Linked DNA regions of Homo sapiens. The protein of the gene in region 5 purifies or fractionates together with the protein of the main gene of each other region. This does not show direct contact. Each region holds a gene or a part of one and is shown on either strand. Other genes may lie near its edges.

Region 1 (3,500 bases), on a different chromosome or scaffold from region 5:
AACATACCAGCTAGTATTACATTGCAGTCAATTTGTCCATTAATGGTATTACTCTGATAATTATTAAAATCTGTTCCAGGTATATATATTGAAAATATTTTCTTTTGCATTCTTGCTGAAGATAGGTACAGTACTTTGGAGAAATTGTACTAATCCCTTCAGTATGTCTGTATGTACATATATACACAAGTGTGTGTATCTGGATCTGTAGCTCTACATGCGCTTTATATACAGCTACAGACATATGCACACATACATATATACACACGTGGTTGAGAACCTGTGCATGTGTGTGTATCATCACAAGCACACATCTGGGAAACGTCAACACTGCAAGATACTGGTCAGATTCTTCTTCACTCATCACTGGCTGCGCTTGTTCCCCTCACTTGACCTTGATTACGTAACTGTAAGAAAAGTGAAAGACAGTGCAAAATGTGTTAAAATACAGAGACAGGAAATGTTAGCAGCTCGTCACACACACTCTCCAAATGCATCAAAACTTTTGGCAGAAAATGTACCCCAACTACTGCATCTTACAATTTTCATCTGTTCAAAAAGATTTTGGTCTTACTACTAATGCCACAATATATTGTCTCATCAGAGGGGAAAATAAAGTCGAGGCAGAAATAAATCACAAAAACTTAGGAGAGTTTAACAAAAGTAACAATAACTTAAATTTTTTTTTTTTTAATGAACATGGAATTTAAAAGTGTTTGGGGGGAATCTTGGAAGAGTTACTTCATTCTTATTTGGCACAACTAGCTTTTCTCACAACTGAACATTTCATTCATCCCAATGTTCAAAAATTAAAGAGCAGGTAGCTCATGTGGGGCAGCAAAGAACCACAGTGGAGGGAGGGGAGTGCTACATCTCGTTCTCTTTATAATAAACATTATAGTTCAGTATAAACAAATGATGACAGCACACTGTTGATTTTTGTTTACTCACACTGGTTTCAATTTGTGAGGGAGATTTTGATTTTTTTTTTTTTGCATCTCTGGGAAAATTTGTTATATGGGCATATAATGTGTTAGAGAAATAAGACCACAAAAATGGTTCACACCATAAATTAAAACTAAAGTGCATTTACGCAGAGTAAAGCTAACTGTAACAACTGAAGACGAAATATCAAGGAAGACTTTCTGGTGCACAGAAAATATTGCAGCCAAAATAAATTATTGAGGTTGGCTCGTATGGTATGGGATAGAGGATCTTTATTTGATCTCAAGTGATTTTGCATATTTCCTTACTAACCACAAATGGTTCTACAAAGAACCAGGTCAATTAACTCAGTATTGAAAAATCAGCTGGCTTCCAGGACAATGTGCTACATGATGAGTAACAGCACCTGGCAGCTGGGTTCTAACCCATAACACTAAAAACTAACCCAGGATTACTAAATTCAACCTGGTCCACAGGTAAAATTTTTAAAGACTATTAATAAGTGTTCACTATTAATTTCTAAAATATTTATCTTTTAAATTCTAAAAATAAAACCACATTTAACACTTAGAGCTTCTGCTCAGCAAGTTAACTGCCCATCACCAAAAAGGTACAGGTTTCGAAACATCTTTTTACCCAGGTCTTCACTTACACAGTTTGACATTGTCTCTGACCCTACAGGGGACTCATCTAGACATCAGCAGCCGACGTGCCTCGAACGGAACCCCTCTTACGCATCTAAACGTAAAATAAAATTGTGAGCTGCTGAAATCAGACTCTAAATAGGGGTTAGTAAGCAAGGGGAGAAAAAAGATCTAGAAGAGATTATGAAGTGATGTTCATAACCATATCCACATTAAGAATGAAGTTCTGTGGCCCCTCAAATAACCTTGGTTTGAAGACATTCTTGCAAAAGGCTTTTCTTAGCACAAAAAAGGTTTATCTATCCTTAACTGTAAAAAACAAAAGCCTGCAGACTGATAAAAAATTATCAAAAACAGCCAATGGGTAAACAAATTGTTTGCCAATATAATGTGAGAAAATACCCCAAGGGTCTGGTCCATATTTGCATAGTCCCTAGGCCAGACAAGCAAGCCATGAGGGTGTGGGCCACACCTCTTTGCTGCTTCTGAGAACAGGGTCTCTCAGTGGAGTCCTTTAAAGGAAGTTTACTGAAAGGAGGGAGAATGAAAGGGAGAAAAGGCAAGGAGGGAGAATGAAAGGGAGAAAAGGCAAGCACAGAAACAATGTATGGCAAACCATGAAGGGCACACAGATGTATTAGAAAGGACAGGCATTCATAACAATAGCCTCCAGACAAGTGACACCACTCAATGAGAAAACAAAAAACGAAATGAACAGAAAACAAACAAATGCAATAAATACGTTAAAACTCAACACATCCTCACCCCCACCCCGGAACCGGAGGTGCCAGTTAAGAACAAACAGGTAAAATGTTTACCTAAAGTCCTCCTTCAGCTGCTGAGCCTCAACTCCAGGGCAGTTCCCTGCAGATCATAGGCAGGGGCATTCCTCGTGTGCCTAACCTCTCAAGATGCTAGTTCTCTCCAGGGCCAAAACCCATTTGAAAGAAATCCAATTCTTAAAATATTTGTGAATTAAGAGCATTATAATGTCATTAAAATCTATCATCAGGTGTCAGGGGTCAGGACCTCAAGGAAAAAGAAATTTCTGCGTGTGAAGAGGACTCTAAAATGGGATGCCTCTTCAGGAGGCAGGTGCTTTCTGGGTAGGCATTCTTGGCCTGCAGGCTTGATGCTGCCCAGATTCTGAGGATGCTTTCACAAAGCCACCATTAGGACTCAAAGCAGCAGCATCTTGATTCTGTGTGTGGAACCAAGCACTCCCCAATGACCTACAGCAAAATAACTTAAATGGGATTCAACGTTAAGATGCACCACTTAATGGTGAAATTTGTCTTAAAATGTTTTTGAGATATTTGACAAAGCAACTGCTATGTACCCTCACTCTGAACCAATGATAGATTTTCCACCAGCTTTATGAGGGGGTTAATCAGTTTCAGCAATGTGGGTATAAGAATGGTGACACTAAGGAATTGGGCTTTTACTTGTCTATCTTACACCTTCTTCTCGAGTGCAATTCCCAACTCACAAATAACTGATCTGCATGGAGCAGCAGCTGCACCTGCAGGCCCACTGCCATAGGTGAGAGCAAGAGTCACCAGCTCCACAGCGGAGGGTCACAGCGTGTTGAGGCTGGGACCATTCTGTGTTCAGGTATCGTGAGGCTGAGGACTTGTTAGAGAAGCAAGAGCACTTCCCTGGGGGAAGAAATCTCAGTCAAGTTCTGTCCAAGGGGTCCAGAGATAGGTAGGGTTTAGAGTCCAAACCAGATAGGGCTTATCACCTGGTCAATGGTAACTACTCTTCCCCATGTGACACACAGTTCTTCAGCATAAAAATTAAAAACTGAGAGAAGGGCTCTTTCCCAAGGGTTTGAGCTGTTGGTAAATCCTTGTAGGAAATGCCAGTGCTGCATCATGGGCTTAGCGTGTTTGGGTGTCTCTTGCTGCT
Region 2 (4,797 bases), on a different chromosome or scaffold from region 5:
AGGCAGCAGAAACTTCTGCAGACTTAAACCTCCCTGTCTGAAAGCTTTGAAGAGAGTAGTGGTCCTCCCAGAATGGAGTTTGAGATCTGAGAACAGACAGACTGCCTCCTCAAGTGGGTCCCTGACCCCTGAGTAGCCTAACTGGGAGAGACCTCCCAGTAGGGGCCGATTGACACCTCATACGTCCGGGTGCCCCTCTGAGACGAAGCTTCCAGAGGAACAATCAGGCAGCAATGTTTGTCATTCTGCAATATTTGCAGTTCTGCAGCCTCTGCTGGTGATACCCAGGCAAAGAGGGTCTGGAGTGGACCTCCAGCAAACTCCAACAGACCTGCAGCTGAGGGTCCTGACTGATAGAAGGAAAACTAACAAACAGAAAGGACATTCACACCAAAACCGCATCTGTACGTCACCATCACCAAAGACCAAAGGTAGATAAACCCACAAAGATGGGGAGAAACCAGAGCAGAAAAGCTGAAAATTCTACAAATCAAGAGTGCCTCTTCTCCTCCAAAGGAATGCAGCTCCTCGCCAGCAACGGAAGAAAGCTGGATGGAGAATGACGAGTTGAGAGAAGAAGGCTTCAGATGATTGGTAATAACAAACTTCTCCGAGCTAAAGGAGGATACTGGCAAACTGAATCCAGCAGCACATCAAAAAGCTTATCCACCACGATCAAGTCAGCTTTCTCCCTGGGATGCAAGGCTGATTCAACATACCTTGAATCAATAAATGTAATCCATCACATACAGAACCAACGACAAAAACTTATGATTATCTCAATAGATGCAGAAAAGGCCTTCAGCAAAATTCAACAGTTCTTCATGCTAAAAACTCAATAAACTAGGTATTGATGGAATGTATCTCAAAATAATAGCTATTTATGACAAACCCACAGCCAATATCATACTGAATGGGCAAAATCTGGAAGAATTCCCTTTGAAAACTGGCACAAGACAGGGATACCTTCTCTCACCACTCCTCTTCAACATAGTGTTGGAAGCTCTGGCCAGGGCAGTCAGGCAAGAGAAGGAAATAAAGGGTATTCAGTTAGGAAAAGAGGAAGTCAAATTGTCCCTGTTTGCACATGTCATGATTGTTTATTTAGAAAACCCCATCATATCATCCCAAAATCTCCTTAAGCAGATAAGCAACTTCAGCAAAGTCTCTGGATACAAAATCAATGTGCAAAAATCACAAGCATTCCTATACACCAACAACACACAGAGAGCCAAATCATGAGTGAACTCCCATTCACAATTGCTTCAAAGAGAATAAAATACCTAGGAATACAACTTACAAGGGATGTGAAGGACCTCTTCAAGGAGAACCACAAACCACCACTCAATGAAATAAAAGAGGACACAAACAAGTGGAAGAACATTCCATGCTCATGGGTAGGAAGAATCAATATCGTGAAAATGGCCATATTGCCCAAGGTAATTTATAGATTCAGTGCCATCCCCTTCAAGCTACCAATGACTTTCTTCACAGAATTGGAAAAAACTACTTTAAAGTTCATATGGAACCAAAAAAGCCCACATTGCCCAGACAATCCTAAGCCAAAACAACAAAGATGGATGCATCATGCTACCTGACTTCAAACTATACTACAAGGCTACAGTAACCAAAACAGCATGGTACTGGTACCAAAACAGATATATAGACAAATGGAACAGAATAGAGCCCTTGGAAATAATACCACATGTCTACAACCATCTGATCTTTGACAAACCTGACAAACACAAGAAATGGGGGAAGGATTCCCTATTTAATAAATGGTGCTGGGAAAACTGGCTAGCCATATGTAGAAAGCTGAAACTGGATCCCTTCCTTACCTTATATAAAAATTAATTCAAGATGGATTAAAGACTTAAATGTTAGACCTAAAACCATAAGAACCCTAGAAGAAAACCTAGGCAGTACCATTCAGGACATAGACATGGGCAAGGACTTCATGTCTAAAACACCAGAAGCAATGGAAACAAAAGCCAAAATTGACAATTGGGATCTAATTAAACTCAAGAGTTTCTGCACAGCAAAAGAAACTACCATCAGAGTGAACAGGCAACCTACAGAATGGGAGAAAATTTTTATAATCTACCCATCTGACAAAGGGCTAATATCCAGAATCTACAATGAACTCAAACAAATTTACAAGAAAAAAATCAACCCTATCAAAAAGTGGGTGAAGGATATGAACAGACACTTCTCAAAAGAAGACATTTATGCATCCAACAGACACATGAAAAAATGCTCATCATCACTGGCCATCAGAGAAATGCAAATCAAAACCACAATGAGATACCATCTCATATCATTTAGAATGGCAATCATTAAAAAGTCAGGAAACAACAGGTGCTGGAGAGGATGTGGAGAAATAGGAATACTTTTACACTGTTGGTGGGACTGTAAACTAGTTCAACCATTGTGGAAGACAGTGTGGCAATTTCTCAAGGATCTAGAACTAGAAATGCCATTTGACCCAGCAATCCCATTGCTGGGTATATACCCAAAGGATTATAAATCATGCTGCTATAAAGACTTCTATGACCAAAGATGTAGGAGGATTTCCCACCCACACCAAGCAACAGACACTAGCTGGGTATCCTCCAACTTAGTTCTGACACTACCTACCCAGAGATAGCATCAGATCCCACAGGCTTAGTCTCACAAGACTGCCCCTTCTTTTCCCCTAGTTGCAAGTCCTGGACTCCAGAACTTCTGGCTGACTGGCTTCAAGTTGGGGTTCCCATGACCTCATCTGTGAATTCCAGTAATTTGCTAAAGCAGCTCACAGAACTCAGGGAAACACATTTACCAGTTTATTAGGAAGGATATCTAATTTTTTTACTTTTTTTTTAATTATTATTTTTTTCATACAGAGTCTCCCTCTTGTTGCCCAGGCTGGAGTGTAATGGCGTAATCTTGGCTCACTGCAACCTCTGCCTCCTGGGTTCAATTGATTCTCCTCCCTCAGCCTCCCACATAGCTGGGATTACAGGCACCTGCCACCATGCCTGGCCTTTTTTTGTTTGTTTGTTTTTTAAGTAGAGACAGGGTTTCATCATGTTGGCCAGGCTGGTCTCAAACTCCTGACCTCAGGTGATCCACCCACCTTGGCGTCCCAAAGTGCTGGGATTACAGGTGTGAGCCACCACGCCCAGCCAGGAAGGATATTTTAAAGGATACAGATGAAGAGATGTGCAGGGTAAGGTATGAGGGAAGATGCATATGGCTTCCATGCTCTCCCTGGGAATCTCACCCTGTAGGAACCTCTGGAAGCTCTCCAAACCCTGTCCTCTTGAGAGGTGAAGCCAGCTGGACTTCCTGGGTCGAGTGGGGACTTGGAGGACTTGTCTGTCTAGCTAGATGATTGTAAACACACCAATCAGCACTCTGTAAAAATGCACTAATCAGCACTCTCTGTCTAGCTAAAGGATTGTAAACACACCAATCAGTGCTCTGTAAAAATGCACCAATCAGTGCTGTGTCTAGCTAAAGGATTGTAAACTCACCAATCAGCACTGTGTAAAAATGCACGAATCAGCGCTCTGTGTCTAGCTAAAGGATTGTAAATGCACCAGTCAGCACTCTGTAAAATGGACCAACCAGCACTCTGTAAAATGGACCAATCAGCAGGATATGGGTGGGGACAAATAAGGGAATAAAAACTGGCCACCCCAGCCTGCAGCGGCAACCTGCTTTGGTCCCTTTCCACGCTGTGGAAGCTTTGTTCTTTTGCTCTTCACAATAAATCTTGCTGCTGCTTACTCTTTGGGTCCACACCACCTTTAAGAGCTGTAACACTTGCCACGGAGGTCCGCGGCTTCATTCCTGAAGTCAGCAAGACCACGAACCCACTGGAAGGAAGAAACTCTGGACACATCTGAAGGAACAAACTCCAGACACACCATCTTTAAGAGCTGTAACACCGCGAAGGTCTGTGGCTTCATTCTTGAAGTCAGCAAGACCAAGAACCCACTGGAAGGAACCAACTCTGGACACACTCTTGGGTGTTCATGGAGGCTTCATTACATAGGCATGATTAATTAAACCATTGGTCATTGATGATTTAACTTGACTTGTAGCCCCTCTCCCCTCCCTGGAGGTTGTAGGGTTGGGGCTGAAACTCCCAACCCTCTAATCCTGCCATCGTCTTTCCAGTGACCAGCACCACGCTGAACCTAGCAGACAAAAGACAGCACGTTGGAGATCCCAAGGAATTTAGGAGTTGTATGCCAGGGAACAGGAACATATTTCCATCCTATAACATATCTTGGCCATATAACTAACTCATAGAGCACTTACTATCCCTTATTGAAAGTATTTGTTTTATGTCTTCTATTTAATTCTGAGCCTCTAGAGTCTAAGAAGCATCTTTTAGTTGTCCTTTCCTCTGTCTTGGTATCTGATACAGTGCCACATTATTTTTCTCTATCTGTAGCAACTTTCTTTTTTTTTTTTTTTTTTTTTTGAGACAGAGTTTTGCTTTTGTTGCCCAGGCTGGAGTGCAATGGTGTGATCTTGGCTCACCACAACCTCCACCTCCCAGGTTTAAGCGATTCTTCTGCCTCAGCCTCCTGAGTAGCTGGTATTACAAGCATGTGCCACCATGCCTGGCTAATTTTGTATTTTTAGTAGAGACGGGGTTTATCCATGTTGGTCAGGCTCGTCTCAAACTCCCAACCTCAGGTGATCTGCCCGCCTCGGCCTCTCAAAGTGCTGGGATTACAGGTGTAAGCCACTGTGCCCAGCCAGCAATTTCTTCTAGAAAGTCCCAGCAGAGGCTGGGTA
Region 3 (4,797 bases), on a different chromosome or scaffold from region 5:
ATATGCCAGTATAAGCCTCAGTATGGATATTCCCATGCCTTCTCTCTCTTATCCTCCCTGATTCAGACAGCTGTGCTGCACTACAAAAGCTGTGAACCTAAAGAAATGGCACCTGGGTTTTATTAAGTGTCACAAGTCAACTAAGGAGAGAAAACACCATTTTCATTTATTTTCTAAGCATGAATATGTGTGTGCATGCGTGTGCATGCACGCACTTAATAAATAAGTAAAGAAATTCTAATGAAAGTCTAAAACTTGAGTTTTCATTACATTAAGAAAGCAATATATTATTTTATCTTTGTCCCACAAAGTATTTTTCAGATTTCTTATAAAATATTTTTGCTTCATTTTACAGTCTAATGGTGAAATTGGATATTTCATCGGAGCAAAATTTCCATTTCAGCTAAACTTCAGTTAATTACCAACCATATGAATAGTTCCATCAGCCCTAATTTAATTTCTAAAAGAACTCCGAGTGGCAGATGGGGAACATAGCTAAAGCTCTTAAATGTGAGTTTATCACAGGTCATAATAAATAGGAAAATATATGGAGATAAGACCAAAAAAAAAAAGAAAATGCAAGAAACAAGTCTTGAAAGAAGCAACAAAAACAAAATAGATAAGTATGTATAAAGGTGGCCAGTAGATGATTAAAAGTAATGAATATTAGTGAAAAACACATTTGCAAAACTGAGAGACAATGACCACGCAATTACCAAACTTAATAGCTTTATGAGTCATTGAGACTGAGAGTGAAATCATTAGGTTTTAAAAATTTTACTTAATGTTTATAAGTAGTTTTTAATATATAGAGACACATCAAAAATAAAAAAGAAGACATGAAAAATATATCTGGAAAATCATTAATCCAAACATCAGAGCAATATTATAGTACTGGAAGTTAAGAAACAATGGGTTGCTTTTTATGATCCTATTGTTACATGTATTGGATAAAAGAAAGGAGTTTTTGAAGTAGGTAATCTAAACTCCATGGGGCCAAAAAATTTGATGTGTAAGTCATTTTGGATAAAAGCTTAATTCCTTGATCTGGACAATTTATTCCAACATGAAGTGAAAAGATCACTGCATATTTTCTATTCTGAAGGCATATTTTATGCCTATTGTTTCACATGTCTATAATTCAAAAGATCCATTAATCCATGCTCTGAGCACCTATGTGCAAGACATTAACGTGGCCTAACTAAAAACATCAATTTCGAATAATCTAAGTCAAATCATTATGCTTTCCGAAACTGCCAAACTCTTAAGAAACTAAATGTTGACAAATCAAAGTATGTTCTGTTAAAAAAAAAAAGGGCTCTATAAGAATCTTACTATTATGACTCTCTCTAGTGACTGTCCTGATTAAAATTACTTAGCATCCTGAAAAGCCACGACAATTGACAACATGAGTCAATAAGAATTTAGAACAAAGTGTCCTATAGCTAAATTTACAGATGAGGGGACTGATACTCAGAGAGGTCAAGTAATTTTCCAAAGGCCACACAACTTATTAGGAACAAAGCATGAACTATATATATCTCCTGAATTCTAGAACTGTGTTATCTTTCCATTATGTCATTGTTTCCCTCAATTGACGAAAGAGATCTATCTTGAGCTGTGAAGAAGCAATGCTCATTATTTCCTTGTTGGGCATCAGATTCTGTTTAACTTTGTAGCCAAAGACTAAGAGCCCAGATTTTGAGAAAATCTGTACTAGTAGTGATGGGAATATTTCTGTAAGAAACTTCCAGAAACAGTACAACTAGCATATTCAGGAGTCTCATGTCCACTAGCAAGCATTCATTGCATATGCTCATACAGTAACATTCTTTGCTGATACATGTATGTATAATATATAAATACTTATATGTATTTCCATATGCTTGAGACTGTCTATAGATTAATATATAATCTTATTGCATTGGTTATTAATAGCCATATTTTACATTTGGCAAACTTCTACTTGTTGTTGTAATTATTTCTATTATCTATTTTGAGATTATTAAAATACTATGTAAAGGGAATTAGGTAATTAAGTGAATTAGTCAATAGTATTTTATCTATAGGTATGAAGAGGTCATTTCTAAGACAGTAAAAAAAATAGTTTATAGAAAAAATACTGTAACTTCATAACCTGAGTAAAGTCTATTTTTAGAAGAAAAATTATTGTCTAAAATTCACAGGGTCCCTTATAATACAACTAGTATTATACATATACATAAAAAGCCCTGCAATTTTTCAGAGATGTCTTATATGTATGTAAACTTGCTGACATTAATAAAACATAAAAGAAAGAGAAATCTCAATCTTACAATGTTCTTAGCAAATAAGTCAACCCATCCCTATAATTTTCCTTTTCAATAGAACAGAAATTCTCTGTGTGGAAACATATTCAACAAACGACATTTAAATTTTCCTACTACCATTAAAGAAAAAGCATTATTACCAAAATTGGGAACAACACTAATTCATTTGCATGATTTCAAAAACCCACCAATAAATATTTTGTGAAGCAAAGTATAACTTTCATGTAAGTATTACTTAAATATTATAAGGATTTACATCATAAAGACCCTTTTGTAAACTGAACAAGCACTCACTATTTTGTTCATTTCTTTCTTTTTGTTATGTTTTCTGAACATTTAGTATACTATAAAATCAAAAAGACCTCTGTTCACATGAAAGAAATTATTGGAGGAATAAACAGAATAAGAATCAGACACAGCATTTCTAAATTATAGACAAGAGTCAAATACACTTTTTCCAATCATTTTTTTTGTTTGTTTCATTGACTAGCTCACCCTCCTGAGGAAATTAGCAGCATAGACAATGGAAAGTACTGTTTTATCTATCTTCCCTATATGAAAGCAATATATTTGAATAGAAGAAACATTGGAATAGGGCTCCATTTTTTAAAAGATTTAGATCTACAGAAGTTATATCATCCCTGAAATCCTCTGGATGCTGTGAGGACTTCTTTGGTTAAAATGAAATATCAGCATAGAAATAAAAAAAAAAAAATCGAGAAAACTAACAATAGCTCACATTTTGGAAAATTAAACATCAAATTTATCTTTTATATATGGTTTCAAATGTGTATTTAACCTCACTGTAAAACTTTATAAACACTTATTATTTATAAGCCTGTAATAACTAGTCTACAATTAATTAGTACAGCAGAAACATAAGTAAAAAATAGGTACGGGGTGGGGAAGATGATGAGGGAAAAGAGTTAATGCATGCCGGGTTTATTATTTAGGTTGATGGGTCGATTTGTGCATCAAACCACCATGGCACATGTTCGCCTATATACATGTACCCTGGAAATTAAAAAAAATAATAAAAAAATATTTTGTTCATTTCATACTTTCATAGTGTTGGGCAAGTTCCCACCTTTTGTGACAGGGGCAGAAATAAATACTACTTACCTTATTATTCATAAATGCTTTGAGGCATTGAATAAGTTTATACTGATTCTTCTTGTCAATATTTTCTTGCCTAAATAAAAGAAAAATGTATATTATGTTGTGCTGAAACATTTTCCCTTTGGTGATTTTAATTTCAGTGTTTATTCTTACTGTTTTTTGTCCAGAAGCTTTTCCAGCTCATCCAATAAGAGTCCAAGACCTTCATGGCCAAAGTTGTTAACCCAGCTGAGAAATAAACAAAAAATTAGATGTATAAGTAAGTTAGTAATTTTAAAACATTAAATATCCAAAATAAAATTTTAATTTTCAAATCTGATAATTCTGTCTCAATATTGCTTGTCATTATTTTTTCAATTCCCACTGCTTCAAGTATTGACTCTATGAGGATGACTCAGTGATCTTTGCCTCAATCCTAGACTTCTCCACATTTTAGATTGCCCATTACACAGCACTGCCTTGGTTGTTTCACCAGCATGACATACTTAAGCATGAATTCACAAGCTGAATTCATCTTCCTCTGTCTCCATACCCCTAAGTCAACTTATCTTCCACTCTTTGATACTTTATTAATAACATCACTACCCTTTTAATTCTTCAGACTTGAAATACTGGCATAATTATTTGATGACCCATTTCTTTCACCTTTGCATTTATTCTATTTATTCAGTCAACAAATATTTGTCGAGTGTCTACAAAGTTCCAAGCATGTTCTAGGTGAGAGAGATACATAACAAGCAACAAAACTAAGCAACTAGCCTCATGGACTTTACTATCTAGAGATAGGGAGACAGTGAACAAATAACTAACTATATAATAAATGTAATAATTGCTTTGATGCAATGAAGAAAAATAAACCTTGGAAAATAGAATGAAAGGAGTGGCAGGCTGCTATTTTTCATTGTGTGATCAGGAAAGATTCTTTGATAAGGTTAGGTATTTCAGCAGAACTCTGAAAGTGAGGACTTTCCAAGTAGAAGGATTAAGGGCAAATTGGGTCATGAGGCATTAGCTAGTGTGTTTAGAATGTTCCAGGAACTGTGAGGAGACCCATGTGGCAGGAGCTGAGTACGCAGGTTTAGGAGATTGGCTGGACATAAATTCTCCTGTGTGGCAGAAGGCTGAAACACTGCTAATGTAGAGCATTATTCACAAATATTCTACTTCTACTTCTACTTCTACTTCTAGAATGCCTCCTCCAAATGGCCCCTTTCTTCCTTTCCAATGCCTCTGCTAACATTCTGGTTTAGTCCTAGTTATCTTTCCTTTAATAAGCCTGGAGACTCCCAATTGGTGATTCCCCAACTTCATTCTTTTCTCTTAATCATTTTATAAAATGACAGATTAAATTGCCCTCAACCAAAGTTTT
Region 4 (4,797 bases), on a different chromosome or scaffold from region 5:
GAGTCAGGAGCTGGAGGAGTAATATCATTATTGGGGCAGGCAAAAGCTTGGCTGAGTGGGGAGCCCACCCCCTCCAACCTCCCAGTTGGTCTGTTACAACCTGAGGAAAATACCTCCTCCCAGTGTTGGTGCTTTATAAGAGTCTAAAGGTGAACCCCGGAGCTGCAGGAGCCATTTGGGGGAATGGCAGCAAAGCAAAAGGACCAGAGTAGTTTGGGGATGCCTGAGGCTCACCTCCTTTCTTTTTTTAAACTCCCTCAGAGGTACAGGACCTGTGGCCTGGGCTTTAGCCCTCGTCCAGTACAAATTCCCAGGCAGAGAAGTTGGCATCCCTGGTAAAAGGAGTTCTCAAACCAAAATAACTAGATAAGTACCACTACTATGAGAAGGGCAGTGCACTGAATTATACGACATGAAGCAGAATTATTGGGACAGACCAAAAAATTTAAGTAACATAATAAATATCCTCCAATGGATAAAGGAAGAGATTACTAATACAAACTGAAAGAAAACATTAAGAAGAAAAATACAAAAGTTGGAATAAGGAACACAATAGATGGGGTAAATAGCATAATGGATACAAAAACAAACAAACAACAACAACAAACACACATAGAGCAATGCAAAGGAAGCTCAGAGAGAGGAATGCTTCCAGAAAGAAGCAGAAAAGAATTCAAGTAGAGAGTAGAGAGACATAGAAAATAGAAGCAGAGTTTCCAAAATCTGGATAATAGGGAACAAGGAAGAAGAGGGAAAAGAAAAACAAACATAAAAGAAAAGGAAATATTTTAACAAAATTGATAATTAATTCTCCAGAATTCAAAAGAGATGAAAGACCTCAGATAATAAGAGTTTATAAAGGACCAAACAGGATATATAAAGACCCACACCAACACATGCCATATTGAAACTTGAGAATATTAAGATTAAATACAAATTCTAAGATAATTTAGAGAGAAAGAGAAAGAAGAATGAGATTAACATCAATTTTCTTTTTTTTTGAGACAGGGTCTCACTCTGTCTCCCAGACTAGAGTGCAGTGGCGTGATCTCGGCTCACCACAACCTCCACCTCCCCACTTCAAGCGATTCTCCTGCCTCAGCCTCCCGAGTAGCTGGGATTACAGGCACACGCCACTACCGCCCAGCTAATTTTTGTATTTTTAATAGAGATGGGGTTTCACCATGTTGGCCAGGCTGGTCTTGAACTCCTGACCTCAGACGATCCACCAGCCTCAGCCTCCCAAAGTGCTGGGATTACAGGCATGAGCCACCAGCCTGGCCTAATATTTTTAAAATATAGAAGGAAAAGAACTTTGAACATAAATTTATCAAATGTGAGAGTATAATAACTATATTCTCAGGCATGCAAAGCCACTGAAGGTTTGCCACATAAAGACTCACTCTAAAGATATTCATCAGGGAAGTTCTCAAATAAAAAGATAAATCCTTTATAATAAGATATATGGGAAATAAGGCTAGTCAAATAACATACTAAAGTTTGTTGCCTAAAAAGGATAAAAAAGAAAGGATAAGAATTGCTAAAATTCCTTTTTTTTTTTTTTTTTTTTTTTATGGAGTCTGGTTCTGTCACCCAGGCTGGAGTGCAATGGCACAATCTTGGCTCACTGCAACCTCTGCCTCCCGGGTCCAAGTACTTCTCCTGCCTCAGCCTCCCAAGTAGCTGGGATTACAGGTACACACCACCACACCTGGCTAATTTTCGTATTTTTAATAGAGATGGGGTTTCGCCATGTTGGTCAGGCTGGTCTTGAACTCCTGGCCTCAAGGGATCCATCCTCCTCGGCCTCTCAAAGTGCTAGGATTACAAGCGTGAGCCACCGTGCCCGGCCAAAAAATTCCAGAATTAAAATCTTAGACAACAGCAACACAATTGGGATCAGGGCTGGGAAGAAAGGAAGAGACCCAAGGTACACGTAAACTGCTAATGTGTTTGTATTATAACAGAATAAATACAGACTTTAATTCATTTAACAAATTAATAAGCATAAACACAAATTTGGGTCTTAAGAGTAACTACAATAACAACAAAAATATAATTTGTTTTAAATGAGAAAAAATATCTATTAGAAAGCAGGAAATGAGAAGAAATTTAAAATGAAGTATAGTAAGGAGAAAAATATTAAATAAGATATTAGAAATAAGTTCTAATAAAACAATCATTTCAATAAGTATAAATGGATTAAAGTTGCCAATTAAAAGACTCTCCAATTAGATATAAGAGAGAAATAAATACAAAAAGAGAGAGGGCGAGAAAAAGAGAGAGAGAATGAAGAAAGATATCCTAAGCAAATATGAACCAAAAGAAGGCTGGAGAATCTATCTCAATATCTGATAACACAGAATTCAAGTTTTTTAAAAAATAGGAAGAGACATCAATGGAGGATACATACTAGAAAAATAAACAAGAGTAAAAGATGTGAACTTTTATATGTACCTAACAATGTAACCTAAAATATATAAATACTCTAACATAAAGCAAGAACAGACAGAATGACAGGAAAGAGACAAATCAACAGATACACTTGAATATTTTAACATGCTCCTTTCAGACAAAAAAATAAGCAGAAATACAGAAGGTCTAAATAATACACTAAACGTGTTTAAGCAAGTAGATCTATAGAGAGCTCTCTATATCCAAACAGAGAATATGTAATTATTTTCAACATTTTAAAAAAGTAACTACAAACCAGGCTAAAGCTTCAGTGAATTCCAAGGAATCAATATCACAGAGACTATCTTCTCTGACCATCAAATTAAAAATGATAACAAAAATCAAAGCTTAAAATAGTTCCATATGGCTAGAACTTGGTTAAAAATAAAAACATAAGTGAACTTTTAAAAAAAATACATAGAATTGAATGACTATGAAAACACAGCGTGTTGACTTTGTGAGACACAGCTCAAGCATTACTCAGAGAGAAATATATACCTTTAAGTACACTCCTCTTCCTTATTTACTGCTAAAATGAACAAGTGTTTCCCTGAAAGTCACACAAACAGAACATGGAGTGCTGTGGAAAAGCTCTCACCACATACACAAATATCTACCTCGTGGCCTACTGGGCCTTCTGCCCCCAAGATTCATGAGGGACAAAATACGATGCTGTCAATAAACTAAAACCTAAAGTAAAAAACCACATCAGGCAGTGGCACACCCATCTTTGTCAAGGCTCAGTAGGCCTGTCCAAACTATTAACCAAAGCATACTTTTTTTTTTTTTTTTGAGATGGAGTCTTGCTCTGTCACCCAGACTGGAGTACAGTGGTGCAATCTCGGCTCACTGTAACCTCTGCTTCCCCGGTTCAAGTGATTCTCCTGCCTCAGCCTCCCAGGTAGCTGGGATTACAGGCGTCTGCCACTAGCCCAGCCAATTTGTGTATTTTTAGTAGAGACAGGGTTTCACCATGTTGGCCAGGCTGGCCTCAGACTCCTGACCTCAAGTGATCCGCCTGCCTTGGCCTCCCAAAGTGCTGGGATTAAAGGCGTGAACCACCGTGCCCAGCCCAAAGAATACTCTGTTAAAGAAAAATATCATGGCGCTGAATCTCTCAAAAGTTTAGACCTTTTTGATCCATCATTATCAACAGACCCTGGAATCAAGTATTTTATTTCCCTCTTACTAAGGATTAGGCACTGCTAGTTTCAGCTCCCATCCCCTCTGGCATCCACTGTGTGAGACGAAATATTCCCCCCTTTAGTTAAATACTCATCCCCTGATACTGATGTCATAAAAAGAAAACATATTTGCACACAAGTACCTGATACGGTAAGTCAGCCATCCTTAAATAAGTTTCCATCTTTAAACAGAAAGGAGATAAACTTGGAACACCATTGTTAGGTCTTGCAAACTGATGCAAAATAATAGCATCTTTAGAGTCAATCTCTTGCTGTTTCCTGTCAAAACCAAAACAGAAATAAAGTACAATCCACATGTTATCCACATTCGGTTCCCTTATTTCTTGAGAGGACCCTGCAGGGTTGTAGCTCCTCAATGAACAAGCAGATCTGTTTGTCACAGGGGCTTACATCACCCAGCACCCAGTTTGTCGAAGGGGCTTACCTCACCCAGCACTCATGGAAGCTTAGTCAAAACTCAAGAGAACCTTACAAACTCCCATGATATTACCATGACCCCACTGGCTCAGCAAAGTAACTACATAACAACCTCCTTCTGTTACCTATGGCCTCCGGGCAGCAAGAACATTTTCTAGTACTGGTCCACCTATTCTCCAGCCGGCTGTATTTACCTGCTAGGACAAGCTGGATGGATAAAAATGATATTCTGTGCTTGCTGTGTGTCACACATTGTTCTGAGGGTCTCATGGGTCTTATCTCCTTTAATCTTCATAATAACCTTATGAAGTAGGTACTACTGTTATCCACGTTTTATAGATGAGGAAATTAAGGCACAGAGGATTAACTTGCCCAAAGTCACATTGCTAGTTATGGCAGAATGGGCACTCAACCAAGAAGTCAGAGCCCATGGTTTTGGCCATTAGACTATACCATGAAACAGTCTATTCATCCATAAGACCCAGGAATAACAGTGCAGATTTGCTCTGCTATGACCCAAGTCTGTAGGGAATCTGAGACTGAAATTCTGGTCCCTCTTCCCAACTGCCCATGCCCTCACCTAACCCTTCTTTCACCTGTAATGCCATGGAACCTGCCTTCTGGATGCTCTCTCTCTAGCTCTGTCTTCCTTATTTTCTGCCTTCCCAGTATCCCCACTTTTACCACACAGCATGTATTTCAGTACCCCTGCTTTTCCCCT
Region 5 (4,797 bases):
GAAAGATTGGTTATAGAGATGCAGATTTAGATTATTTCACCCAGAAAATGTAGTTGAAATTTAGGGAATGAGGTTTAGGGAAAGAGTGTGAAGAAAAAAGAAAAGGGAGGTGGGAGGAGACAGAGTGAAAGGGAAGAAGCCAGATCCTGAGTTTTCACTGAGAAGAGGATTTGAACAACACAGTGGTGGTCAACAGCAGTTATTGGAACTGTAGATTGTTGGTTTTGGGAACACCTGTCTAGGTTGTTAAGAGCCAGTGGAATAGGACATCCTGGAAATGAAGAAACATCAAAATCCAAGGAATCTGAGAGAATGGGAACAAAAAAACACATGTAGAGATTTATGGAAAACTTGAGACACAGGGGAAGAAGGATAAAAATAGAACTCAGATTTCTGGAGGTGGATGACATTTAACTTTAATAAGTAAAGGGCCCTGTCTCTACAAAAAATTAAAAAAAAAAATATTCCAGTGTGGTACGCACCTGTAGTCCTAGCTGCTCAGGAGGCTGAGGTAGGAGAACACTTGAAGCTTGGAGTTCTAGGTTACACTGAGTCATGATTATGCAACTGTACTACAACCTGGGCCACACAGCCAAGACCCCATCTCCAAAAAATAAAAAATAAAGGGAAGAACAGTAAGGTTTGACCTTTAGGGGAATGGATGTATTATGCACTGAGAGACCCTTTCTTCTCCAAAGAATGTTGATGTTCACTAACATTTGGGAAAAATTGTGTAACTCCCACTGGCACTGTGAAATTGTTTTTCTGTTTTTGTTGTTGTTGTTGTTGTTGTTGTTTTTTGGAGGGGAAGGAGGAAGGGTGTTGTTTGGTTTTTTGGTATTCCACCCTACTCTGTCACCCTATTTCTCCCACAAAATCTGTTCTAGAACCTAAATATATATTTGTTCTAGAGCCTAAATGAAATCTACCAGATAAGTGACATGATATATACTATGTAAGTTTCCATATATATTTTTCTTACTGAATATCAGTCACTTCATCGTTCATAAGCCCACTTTTCTTATACATCCTTTCTAGTCACCCTAGTAGTAGTCCTTCAGTCCTCATCTCTTCCCTTCTTTCTCCCCATGTTACAAGTTCGACTTACAACTGAGCCAGATAGATCCATCTTCCTCTACTTACCTAGTCCCCACTCTTATTTTCTTCACTCAGGAGTTGACTACATCTCATGCTTCGAAATTACACTTGAAAACTTTGTTTATTGATTTAAAAAGATAAAAAACTTTCATAGTACTTTTACTTCAGCAGATGGTTTTGACCAAGTACCAACAAGCTTTATGGCAAAATAGGTATTAAGGTGGCCTGTGGCAAATAATTAGATTATGGGCAATTAAGGTAATTAAGTGGTGATGTGGTATCCCATCAGGGTGTACAGTCATTTACCTCAAAAGAAGAAAACATCTCTATTGAGAATGCATATGCATATAAAAGCTCTGTATAACCTTTGCTGTGAAAAGTATATCCCATTTGTAAACCATTGGTGTTTTTTTCAGAATCGCCTACCATTTGGTGCAAGCAAAAAGCAATCAGCAATTGGACAGGTAAACTTGTTTTATTGTTTATATGTTACTCTGAACATTGAATGAAAATACCACTAATAGCTTGTTTTAAAACGTGCTATTTTTCACATAGAAAAATTCTATTGAAAAATATAACCACCTATTATAATGTATCAGATATCATAGTATATCACAGTATGTCATATCTAGTTCTTAGTTTATGTCATATTTCTTGTTAAGCCTAACATATTTTTTTGATTTGTAATTAAAGATAGTTTCTAAAATGGTGGGTAGAAAAAATACTTTAAAAGCTTTGTTTTTTAAAAAATATTCTACCAACTTTTAAAAAGTGTTTTAATCTTGTTTCTTCTGGCCAAATGAAAAGCATTTGATTTTGAATTTTAAGAGCAGAGAAAACTGACAACTTGAGGTTTATTAAAATAGACGAATAGCAAAGATACAGACTCCTATGTACCAGATACGTGCTCAGTGTACCATCTTTTGCAAAGTGGATATAGTCCTTTCTAAGTTTAAGAAAATCTGGTTTCCTTGTGGAATAATGGAGCAAATAAATTTTATTTGTTGGTCTCATATATATGTATTAATATATTAAAATTAGTATCTCTCTCTATAAGTTCATTATTTAAGATAGGATTGTTAACAGTAGCTAAAGTTAATATTCAGTAACTAATAACATCTCATGGGAGTTTATTGTTTAAGAATTAATCTTTTATAGATTAAAAGCATAAAACTGAGCAGATGGTAATTTCTTTGTGTACAGTTGTAATATCATAATTCTATAGAATCAGTTATCTTAAAGTGTCTTAAAAAATGAGTATTTAAAGAACCTCTAGAGAGTCAGGACAGCATAGCAGTTAAGAGTAGGGCTTCTGATGTCAGACTTCTGGGTTCAAATCCCAGTCTTCCAAAATAAAACTATTTGGGTTTATTGAAGAAATTAGAGATAAGATTGAAACTAATTTTTTAAAGTATTTTATAAAGACATTTCCAAAATTAGCTTTTTAAGATTATTGTTATACATCTTTGAAAGAGTAATCCTAAAGCTCCAGCTGATTAGCATGTAGTAGTGCATTTCTCTGAGAAGATCACCAGGGTGGTAATACCTGTTCCTGATATCTAAAGCTTTTTCTTCAATATGTAGGACTTACTGCCTTATATTCTAATACAGTGTTTCTAGGAATAGAAAGGGAATCTTTCTTTGAGAGGTACATGTCAGAATCAGTGTGGTTTCCCTTTGCTTAATAGGCATTTATGATAAAGATAGTTTTCCAACTTTTTTCCTGTATTTATCATTAAAAGCAATAAAATATGTCATTTTACATGTAAGTTTAAAATTATTTTTACATGAAAACAAAAGATTTGTTGGACAGAAAAGAAGTTAACAGGCTTGTTTTACTTATTGGTTTGTTTTAAAAGGAGAAATAAATGTTGATCTTAAAGTTTCATATCACTTTCTCTTAAAAATTCATGGGATGAGTAATTGGATCTGGTTTAGTGTCTAGAAAAATGTGTATCACACCGTAAGTGTTCAGTAATGTTACATATTATTATTACCAAAATCATTATCACATCTTTCTTCCATTTTAAAATCAACTATAATCAGTCATACCAATTCCTTGACTACTTTGTTGCAGTTGATAGGCAGACTATTAACAATTTTTAATCTTCTAAACTAAGGTAATTAATTGGTAACTTATGTATTTTCTGCCTCTTTTAAAAATAATTTGGGGCAGTCCACCACAACGAAAAAACTTGTTAATAAATTAGTAATGATATACCAAAGTATGAAAGCTTTTAAAAGTGAGTAACAAGTGTAAATGCATGTATGAGCGTTAATCAGTTTCTTAATATTATTTACTGGAGAAAAATGTGAAAAAAAAATTCTAAGTAGAAAATAGTTGTATGTTCAGATAATTTATCTGAAGGCAATTAGTTTTGTTTCAAGTTTTTCAGTAACTAATTCTCTGGAAATTAATGAGATTACTCTTTACTAATAGGAAAAGAATGGCATTGAAGCAGATTTCCAGCAACAAGTGCTTTGGGGGATTGCAGAAAGTTTTTGAACATGACAGGTAACTATTAAGAAGATATAATTTTAGATACCTCATTCTGTTGGATTATTTTGTTCTATTTTAAAACCAATCTTTATCTAGATATTATAGTACCTCATTTTACTTTTAAACTTGCTTACTCTCTTTCTGTGGTTATGTATTTGACAATTCTACCAGACTTAATTAACTGTGGATGTGATTGTGTGAGGTAGAGCCTTAACAGAGAAGTATCTTCAAGCTTTGACATGATGCTCTTCTGAAACTTTATGAAAATGCTTATGTTGCCAGTAAAAATTCTGAAAACATTTTCTTTGAGGATCTCTAAGTGTAGGAAAAACACCTGGACTTTTTGAGAAAGATGGCACACTAAACACATGCATTTGCTTCCGCTGCCTCCAAAACTCTGACTAACATGGCATTAAGTAAAGAGATTAAACACACACGCACACATACATATACCTATAAAGGCATAAAGAAGCAGGAGACAGGAGCTAAGAATAACATTTTAGAAGCAGGAATACAAATGGAGAGGTAGTACCTGACTTAGTAAAACCTAGAAAGCTACATTCTAAACATAAGCAAGAAAACCTGAGAAATGACACAATTTATTTAAAGCCATAGTAATTGGAGGCACCAGGGACCCCTGAAAATAAGGATAAAAGTTGAGCTTAGAAAAAAGATTAATTGAAAGTCTGTTTTTAAAAGGAGATAGATCTGAGAGTGTCCCAGCTTTATGGACTGCCTCTTCCTAACTCTGGGAAAGATTGGAGGTAAGTTCTCTAGAGAAAGTAAACTGTTTGTACTGGGGAATACCAGACACAATTAGTGGGATTGTGATACTGCAAATAGATTAAGCAAAAGTTTGCACACTGAGTTTCTTCCACTAGCTTTCAAAATTTGGGGACTTAGTCTTATATCCTTTAGAAGAATTTCTTTGTGGGGAGTTTGAGTAGCCCAAAGGAAGAGATTTCAAGATACTGAGATTTGCCAACAAAGTAACCTAACCAGACCTTACAGTAAAGCAATGATTGACAACTCCACCTGTAGGCACAGTGCTTTCAACTAGATTTTTAGTGTTTCTCTCTTAAATAGGAGTGGACAGCTAAAGATCACTAGACATTTGTATAAAGTCTTTAATTTGATATGAACTTCTCTTCATATCAAAGTATAAAAGATATTGACCTCTTGACTTCATAGGATGCTAT

What was found.
Region 1: the proteins of ESD (region 5) and PITPNB fractionate together in Homo sapiens (co-fractionation; one large-scale study listed by BioGRID). This does not show direct contact.
Region 2: the proteins of ESD (region 5) and ACADM purify together in Homo sapiens (affinity purification with mass spectrometry; one large-scale study listed by BioGRID and IntAct). This does not show direct contact.
Region 3: the proteins of ESD (region 5) and DIAPH2 purify together in Homo sapiens (affinity purification with mass spectrometry; one large-scale study listed by BioGRID and IntAct). This does not show direct contact.
Region 4: the proteins of ESD (region 5) and FAXC fractionate together in Homo sapiens (co-fractionation; one large-scale study listed by BioGRID). This does not show direct contact.

What each region holds. Positions count from the first base shown.
Region 1 is NC_000022.11:27,853,257-27,856,756, forward strand, and holds part of PITPNB (phosphatidylinositol transfer protein beta isoform), read right to left. Parts: intron 1,684-3,500; coding exon 1,636-1,683; 3' UTR 1,598-1,635; intron 408-1,597; coding exon of another isoform or gene 357-407; 3' UTR 1-356. UniProt on the Homo sapiens protein: Catalyzes the transfer of phosphatidylinositol and phosphatidylcholine between membranes. Also catalyzes the transfer of sphingomyelin.
Region 2 is NC_000001.11:75,755,202-75,759,998, forward strand, and holds part of ACADM (medium-chain specific acyl-CoA dehydrogenase, mitochondrial isoform a precursor), read left to right. Parts: intron 1-4,797. UniProt on the Homo sapiens protein: Medium-chain specific acyl-CoA dehydrogenase is one of the acyl-CoA dehydrogenases that catalyze the first step of mitochondrial fatty acid beta-oxidation, an aerobic process breaking down fatty acids into acetyl-CoA and allowing the production of energy from fats.
Region 3 is NC_000023.11:96,911,187-96,915,983, reverse strand, and holds part of DIAPH2 (protein diaphanous homolog 2), read right to left. Parts: intron 3,657-4,797; coding exon 3,582-3,656; intron 3,502-3,581; coding exon 3,432-3,501; intron 1-3,431. UniProt on the Homo sapiens protein: Could be involved in oogenesis. Involved in the regulation of endosome dynamics.
Region 4 is NC_000006.12:99,339,117-99,343,913, forward strand, and holds part of FAXC (failed axon connections homolog), read right to left. Parts: intron 3,918-4,797; coding exon 3,782-3,917; intron 1-3,781. UniProt on the Homo sapiens protein: May play a role in axonal development.
Region 5 is NC_000013.11:46,790,162-46,794,958, reverse strand, and holds part of ESD (S-formylglutathione hydrolase), read left to right. Parts: intron 1-1,514; 5' UTR 1,515-1,562; intron 1,563-3,538; 5' UTR 3,539-3,545; coding exon 3,546-3,613; intron 3,614-4,797.